Regions from separate parts of the Homo sapiens genome. Here all the other regions are linked to region 1. Evidence: fine-mapped expression QTL. A gene starts in region 1. Each other region holds a variant in brackets. All regions are shown on one strand. Distances are between the middles of the regions.

Evidence for each region.
Region 2: its variant is fine-mapped to the expression of SRPK2 in gastroesophageal junction (GTEx, PIP 0.98).
Region 3: its variant is fine-mapped to the expression of SRPK2 in whole blood (INTERVAL, PIP 0.93).

The regions. Positions count from the first base shown.
Region 1 is chr7:105,387,588-105,390,349 of GRCh38, forward strand. It overlaps SRPK2 (SRSF protein kinase 2), which reads right to left and starts at 1,334. Exons shown (of 16, transcript NM_182692.3): 1 at 1,204-1,334; 2 at 1,061-1,115. The coding sequence starts at 1,219. RefSeq lists silencers at 485-584, 685-804, 1,145-1,274, 1,305-1,374, 1,385-1,434 and 1 more.
Region 2 is chr7:105,035,733-105,038,494 of GRCh38, forward strand. It overlaps KMT2E (lysine methyltransferase 2E (inactive)), which reads left to right. Exons shown (of 27, transcript NM_182931.3): 2 at 2,394-2,467. Among named protein-coding and RNA genes, the nearest start is that of KMT2E, 23 kb to the left of the region's middle. The variant A/C (reference allele first, on the strand shown) is at 1,560.
Region 3 is chr7:105,444,641-105,447,402 of GRCh38, forward strand. No RefSeq gene overlaps it. Among named protein-coding and RNA genes, the nearest start is that of SRPK2, 57 kb to the left of the region's middle. The variant A/G (reference allele first, on the strand shown) is at 1,544.

The sequences.
Region 1 (2,762 bases):
GGGAAAAAAGTGAGCGTGCTGCGACGTACCCCTCAAAGGAAACAACCAAAAATGTTTCTGGATTTTATTAAAGATAATGCTGGATTCTCGTTCCCCACAGTACCAAAGATGCCACACAGAGTATTCTTGCTCAAAAGAGCGAAGCAATTAATCTAGAGGAAGAGATAACGATGTCGAACGCTGGTAAATCAAAAAAATTAGGAGAGAGGAGTGGAAAAGGAGAAGACGCGGCGGCGCTGTGCGGTCTCGGAGCAGCTCTCCAGGAAAGGGTTCTTGGGCAGCGGCCCCCCTGCTCGGGTGAGCGGCCAGGCTGGAGGTGGCCGCCACGGGCGCGTTTTCCACTCCGACCGGCTCCCGCGCACACGCCCACCGCCCTGCGCAGCCCGCGACCCCGGCGCCCGCAGCGCACCCAAGTCACGCTCAACCCGAGCGGAAAGTTTCGAATCCAAACCCGAGAGCCGAAACGCACAGGTCTCGGGGCTGAACTCGCGCCAGGAACACGCCCGAGGCAAACCACTTGACAACCAGCTTAGGTTCTCAGCAGAAAGGCCGACAGGCGGGGGCCGGGGAGGAAGGGGAGGCGAGACACACGCCCTCCCGCACACTCGGCCCCTCCGCCTCCTCGGCCCGCGGCTCAGGTGGGAGCAACGCAGCCGCTGCACTCCCGCAGCGGGCGGGCCGGAGCCCAGCGGCAGACGCCGGGGCCCCTTCCGGAAAGGGCCGCGACCCCCGGGCCAGCTCGCGGGCAAGGGACGGGTGCGCACGCCCTGCCCGGCGCCTTTCCGCCGGCCTCCCGCCCGCCGGCCGGTGGCGACCCGGGGCGGGAGGTCGCGGGGTCGAGGCTCCGTGATGCTAGGGAACCGGCCGCGGCCCGCGCGCCCCTCCCCCGCCGCCGCCCCTCCCCCCGGGCCGCCCGCCGGGGGCAGGAGCCGAGCGCCAGCGTCCCGGGGGACCAGCCCGCCCGCCGGCCCGGGGACCCGGACAACTTTCCCCTGCGCGGCCGCGGGCGCCCCCGACGGGGCGGGGGTGGGGAACGGGGACAGGCGCAGCGTGGACTCACTTTTTCGGATGTTTCTCTCTTTTCGGCCTCCGCTTTCGGGCCTGAATGGCCAGCACTGGGGAAGAGAAGACACACATTAACGGTCGGGCCGCCCGCCCGGGCTGGCCGCGTGGCGGGGAGAGGGCGCGCCGCGGGCCACTCACCTTTCCGGGAGCTCATTCCGACGCGGCGGAAGCGGGGCGGGGGGCTTCGCGACGGCGACGCGGGCGCCGAGACGAGCTGGGCTGCAGCCTCCACTCGCTCCGCCGGCCGGGAGGAGACGAGAACCGCGCCTGCGCCGCCGCCGCCGCCGCCGCTCCAGCAGGGACCCAGCAAGACCCGCCCCCGTCCGGCCCCGCCCCCGCCCCGCCCCCACCCGCCGGCCCCGGGGGTCGGGACCCCAGCGCCGCGCGCCCAGCGCCCCGCGCCCCCGCCCCACCCACCTGTGCAGAAGTGGCCGCCGCCCATGGCCGCGCTGGCCCTCGGCCTCCCCCACCCCAGCCCGCGGCCCGGGCCTCCGCCTCCTGCGATCCTGCGGCTGGCCCAGGCCGCCCGCCTCTCCCGGGCACCGGACCCGCGGGACCCTCCCTCCCCGCCGCGGCCTCTCCCCTCCGCACCCCGGCCGGTCGCGCCGCCCGCTGCTCCATGCGCCCGTCCTTGGCCGGCGCCTCCGCGGGTCTCGCACCACCTCTCTTCCCGCGGCCTCTTCTCTCCCTTTGCTCCTCTACATCCTTGCAACCCCATGAGCGCCGCTTCCTCCTCTCCGGCAGGCGTGGAAAGGGCACACGACCAAAAGCTGGGAAACCTGGGTCCGCGATTAGCGGTGTGACCTTGGAGAAGTCATTTTCTCTCCCACCTCTAAGTGCCCTCCAGGATTGCATGAGTTTAATGAAGGAAAAGATACAGATAGCATTCAAGGTAGGACAAAGGTTTTGCACATGAATTGAAACTCGCTTCCGTAAACACCAGGTGTATAACAATTCAAAACAACAATCACACCAAGTAGTTATTTTCTGCATCCTACAATGAGGAAACTGAGTCCCAACGAGGTTAAAAAGTTTAACCAGCCAGGATCGAAATTCAGGCCTGGCCGTCGACAAACCACCTTATCAGGCTGCCTACAAAAGATGTGAATCAAGTTGATAGTGACACAAAAAGATAACTGCAATGTTCTCTTATTTATGTAAATAATTACAATAGTTTTTGAAAGATACGCATTCTGACTATTAACTCCCTCATTGGTCACACAACTGTATCTTTGACAAGGTGGCTTACACTAAGGATGATAAATCAGAACGGGAAACTCTGCTTGGATTTTGAAGAGTCCTTAACTTTTTATATTCAAAAAAATATCAAACCCTATAGAAAAGTTACAAGGAAAATACAATTAACAGCCAAATTAACCCATATTCACCAATTTTTAACATTCTGCCACATTTGCTATCTATGTGTCTGTGTGTATGGTTTATTTTGCTGAATCACTTGAGTTTTTGTAGACACTGTTACCCTTTATCCCTAAATATTTCAGTACATATCTACTAAGAATAAAGATAATCTCCCACATAATCAGAATTCCATGATCACTCCAAGAAACTTTCATACTAATACAATGTAATCATCTGTAACATACAGGCCATATATATTCAATTTTGCAAAATATCCCAGTAATATCCCTTGTCGCTGATTTTCTTTTTTTCCCAATTAGTCTACCATTAAGGATCAT
Region 2 (2,762 bases), 350 kb before region 1:
ATTTCTAGTAGAGGTGGGGTTTCACCATGTTGGCCAGGCTGGTCTCGAACTTCTGACCTCAGGTGATCCACCCACCTTGGCCTCCCAAAGTGCTGGGATTACAGATGTGAGCCACCACACCCGGCCATAAACACAAATTTTAGTCTTTGAGACTGTATTTGCCCACGTTTGTGGTGTTTTAATGCATTGTTACAGATTAAATGTAAGTTTGTTAACTGGATCAGGTTTGAGGGAGGAGCAAGGTCGGTTTTGTTAGTGCAGTTTCATTTAATAATCAGAGGAAACGCAATTCAGATGTTCTGGAGTGAGATACTTAAGTATTTAATTTCCCTTTTTGAGAGAGGCAGCTGTCAATTTTTTCTTCCTTAATTATAAATTCTAGATTATTTATTTTACCTATCATCTGGCAGGGTTTTTTGTTGTTGTTGTTGTTGTTCTTTTGGTTTTTTTTTTTGTTTTTTTTTTTGGCAGAGTCTGTCACCCAGGCTGGAGTGCAGTGGAGCAATCTTGGCTCACTGCAACCTCTGTCTCCTGGGTTCAAGCGATTCTCGTGCCTCAGCCTCCCAAGTAGATGGGATTACAGGTGTATCCACACCCAGCTAATTTTTGTATTTTTAGTAGGGACACGGTTACACCATGTTGGCCAGGCTGGTCTTGAATTCCTTACCTCAGGTGACCCACCCGCCTAGGCCTCCCAAAGTGCTGGGATTACAAGTGTGAGCCACAGCTCTCAGCCATCTGGCAGTTTTTAATTTCAGGCATACTGATGTGTAGGCTCTGGAATCAGACCACAAGGGTTCAGATCTTGATTTGGCTATTTATTAGTTATGAACTTTGGACAAGTTTAACCTCTCTACCTCATTGTAAAATGGGGATAATAAATGCACCTATACCATAGGCTTATTGTGGAGATTAAGCATTGTAAGCACTCAGAATTTGCTATCATTATTATTATAACCACTAGTTGGGGAAGTTTGAGTATCAGATAAGTGCTTCTAGAGCACTATCTGGTAGTAATGCTAGCTCAGTTGTAGAAATGCATATTCATTTTGTTATCACATTTATATTTTATAGTTTTTTAGAATCTAAAATTCTGTCATTTTGATTATTTGGAATAATCTGTTAATGTAATTGTAAGATCATCAGCCTAATCAACTTCCATTTATAGTTGAAAGTCAGAGCAGTGAAATGACTTGCCCAAGCATTCGTAGGTAGTAACTTGGAATGGATCTGATTGACTAGTATTCTTTTCATTTTACCTTAGTCAGCTGCTGTAAATTAAATGTTAAATGACTAATAAGGGCTGTTTAATTTCCAGTCTCAGTTACATGTCTCCTCAAAATTTCTTTCAAGTTTCTTTAATTATTTCCATTAGTAATTAAGCCAAAAATTTACCTAGTCTCTTAGTGATACACATCCAAAATATATACATTAATTTAAAATATTTATTGAGCACTGTGCCAGGTGCTTATAAAGGACAGAAATATAATAAATGGCTCTTTCCTCAAAGAGATTGTTATATTGGGCTCTTTTATTTGTAATTTTAGAAAAATATTTTT[A/C]CTCATATTTTTTATTCTTTCTGCCTTTTGGGTATCATATTAATCTTTAAAGTGTTACTTTTTGTTTTCTTTTTTTTGTTGTTTTTTTTAAGACAGGGTCTCCCTCTGTCAGCCAGGCTGGAGTGCAGTTGTGCAATCGTGGCTCACTGCAGCCTTGACCTCTTGGGCTCAAACAATCCTCCCATCTCAGCCTCCCAAGTAACTGGGACTACAGGTGTGCATCACCACATCCAGCTAGTTTTTGTATTTTTTGTAGGGATAATGTCTCACTATGTTGCCCAGGCTGTTCCTGAACTCCTGGGCTCAAGTAGTCTGCCTGCCTCAGCTGCTCAAAGTGCTGGGATTACAGGTGTGAGCCACTGTGCCCAGCTGTTTTCTGTTTATTTTAACACGGTCTTAAAGGCAGCTTCAGTCTTCCAGTTTTTCTGATAAACTGTTTTCTACTTTAATTGCTTTTTTTGCCTTTTACTTCATTTTTCCTACTTGAGAGTCTTGTTTGTTTTTATTGTTTTTGTTTTGGTATTGTTGCCTTTGCTAAATCTGTTTTTAATATTGTATTAAAATTTATTTTTCAGTTAAACATTTTTAAATATTAAATTTAATATTGTATCCCAGTGTTTCTTTTTCCAGTTTGATTTAGTATTTAGCTTTGATTGTTGCCTTTACTTGTGTTTACATTCATTTGTGTAAAAAGGGAAGAGTAAATTTATCCTTTTAAGAATTGGCTGCTTTGTGTGAGTCACTTTGGTTTTAGGTACCATGTCAGTTAGAAGTAATTATAATTTTATGCCATTTAAAAATAGCTCAAAACTCCTATGTTCACTTGGTTTCTAGGTCTATTCTGGATAAGCAGGTTTTGTGAAGACATTTATTCTTTCTTGGACCTCAGATTTACCAGACATCTCATGGTATTTCCTTTTCTATTATTTCTTTAATGGCTGCCATTTATTCTCAATGTATTTTGTACATATTTTACTTGTCAGCTGGATGACCAGTTTTTTGATTCACACATAAGATGTGAAACATTGTGTTAATTGTTAAGGTTGTGTTAAAAACCTTTTCCCTTTATTTATAACTTTTTTTTTTTTTTGAGACGGAGTCTCGCTCTGTCACCAGGCTGGAGTGCAGTGGCGCGATCGCAGCTCACTGCAGCCTCTGACTCCCTAGTTCAAGCGATTCTCCTGCCTCAGCGTCCTGAGTAGC
Region 3 (2,762 bases), 57 kb after region 1:
ATCTCAGTTCCTCTTACCTGATAAATAATGCACCTATTTCTACACAAAAATCACATGGCATACTATGTTTTAAGGCAAGAGAAAAAACAAAGCAAGCATCAGACCAGACTCAGCTAGGTGTCACAGATTTTGGAACTGAGAATAACTATGATTAATATGTTAAGGGCTCTCATGGAAAAAGTAGATTACATGCAAGAACAGATGCATAATGTATGCAGAGAGATGGAAACTCTAAGAAGCAATAAAGGGAAGTGCTAGAAATTTAAAAAATAACACCGTAACAGAAATGAGGAATGTCAGTGGACTGGACAAAATCAGTGAGCCTGCAGATATGTTAACTGAAACTTCCACATTGAAATACAAAGAGAAAAAATAATGAAAAAATAAAACAAGAAAACCTGAATGGAATGTCCAAGAACTGTGGGACAATATGAAAAAGTATAACATACATGTTTTGGAAAACCAGAAGAATAGAGAACAGAAGAAATATTTGAATAATGACTACAAATTTTCCCAAAATTAATGACAGACATCAAATCACATCCAGTGTCTTAGTCATTTTTGTGCAGCTATAAAAGAATATCTGAGATTGTTTAATTTATACTGGATATACATTTATTTCTCACAGTTTTAGAGGCTGGGACGTTCAAGATCAAAGAGCTGGCAACTGGCAAGGGCCTTCTTGTTATGTTATCCCATGGCAGAAGGTGGGAGGACAAGAGAGGATGAGAGACAGAGAGAATGCAAGAGAAACCCAGACTCCTCTTTTTATAAGGAATTCACTCTGGTGATAACAAACCCATTCCCCAGATAATGGCCCTGCCCTCGTGACCTAACCACCTCTTAAAAGTTAAAGTCCCACCTCCCAACACTGCCACATTGGGGATCAAGTTTCCAATACATGAATTTTGGGGGACCCATTCAAACCATTGTATCCAGAATCCTCAGAGAGTACTAAGCAGGATAAATATTATAAAACTATATTTTAGCATATCATATTCAAATTGCAGAAAATTAAAGATAAAAATCTTTTTTTTTTTTGAGACGGAGTCTCCCTCTGTCGCCCAGGCTGGAGTGCAGTGGCACGATCTCGGCTCACTGCAAGCTCCGCCTCCTGGGTTCACGCCATTCTCCTCCCTCAGCCTCCCGAGTAGCTGGGACTACAGGCGCCCGCTACCACGCCCGGCTACTTTTTTTGCATTTTTAGTAGAGACGGGGTTTCACCGTGTTAGCCAGGATGGTCTCGATCTCGTGACCTTGTGATCCGCCCGCCTCAGCCTCCCAAAGTGCTGGGATTACAGGCGTGAGCCACCGCGCCCGGCCCAAAGATAAAATCTTGAAAGAAGCCAGGAAAAAACACCTTACCCATAGAGCAACAAGCATAAGAATTACATTGGTCTTCTCATCAGAAACCATGAAAATATATAGAGAGTGGAATGAAATATTTAAAGTGTTGACAGAAAAAACCCACCAACTTAGAATTATCTACATCCAGTGAAATTATCTTGCAAAAGTGAAGGAGAAAGAGACTTTTTCAAAAAAC[A/G]AAAACTGAGGGAATTTATTGCCAGCAGACCTGCCTTGCAAAAACTGTTAAAAGAAGTTCCTCAGTGAAAAGGAAAATGATATAGGTCAGAAACTCTCATGCATATCAAGAAAGGAAGAGAATCAGAGAAGGAATAAAAATAACCTTTTACTTTTCTTATTAACTGATCTAATATATGACCATTCAAAATAATAATAGCAAGAAGGAATTGCATGATTATAGCATGGAAATGTGAAATCAATGAAAGCCGTTTCTTTGCTTTAGAAAGCAGTAGAAAGGAGTTGCAAATACTGTTTTTTTGTTTGTTTGTTTTTGTTTTTTGTTTTTTAGACAGAGTCTCACTCTGTCATCCAGGCTGGAGTACAACGGTGCAATCCCAACTTGGGATGCCTCCCGAGTAGCAGGGATTACAGGTGCCTGGCACCGTGCCTGGCTAATTTTTGTATTTTAGTAGAGACGAGGTTTCACTATGTCAGCCAGGCTGGTCTTGAACTCCTGACCTCACATGATCTGCTCACCTTGACGTCCCAAAGTGCTGGGATTATAAGCATGGGCCACCGTGCCTGGCCAGCAAATACTGTTATAAAGTATCTGTACTATCCATGAAGGACCTGTACTACTCATGAAGCAGTATGGTGTTATTTGAAAGTGGACTTGGTTATGAATGTATATTGCAATTTTTTTTTTTTTTTTCTGAGATGGAGTCTCGCTCTGTTGCCCAGGCTGGAGTGTAGTGGCACAATCTCGGCTCATTGCAACCTCCGCCTCCCAGGTTCAAGCAATTCTCCTGCCTCAGCCTCTTAAGTAGCTGGGACTACAGGCACCCGCCACCATGCCTGGCTAATTTTTGTATTTTTGGTAGAGACGGGGTTTCACCATGTTGGCCAGGCTGGTCTCAAATTCCTGACCTCAGGTGATCCACCTGCTTTGGCCTCCCAAAGTGGTGGGATTACAGGCGTGAGCCACCGTGCCTGGCCAGCAATTTTTTTTTTTTTTTTTTTTGAGACTGAGTCTCGCTCTGTTGCCCAGTCTGGAGTGCAGTGGCGCTATGTCAGCTCACTGCAAGCTCTGCCTCCCAGGTTCCCGCCATTCTCCTGCCTCAGCCTCCCAAGTAGCTGGGACCACAGGCACCTGCCACCACGCCTGGCTAATTTTTTGTATTTTTAGTAGAGACGAGGTTTCACCATGTTAGCCAGGATGGTCTTGATCTCCTGACCTC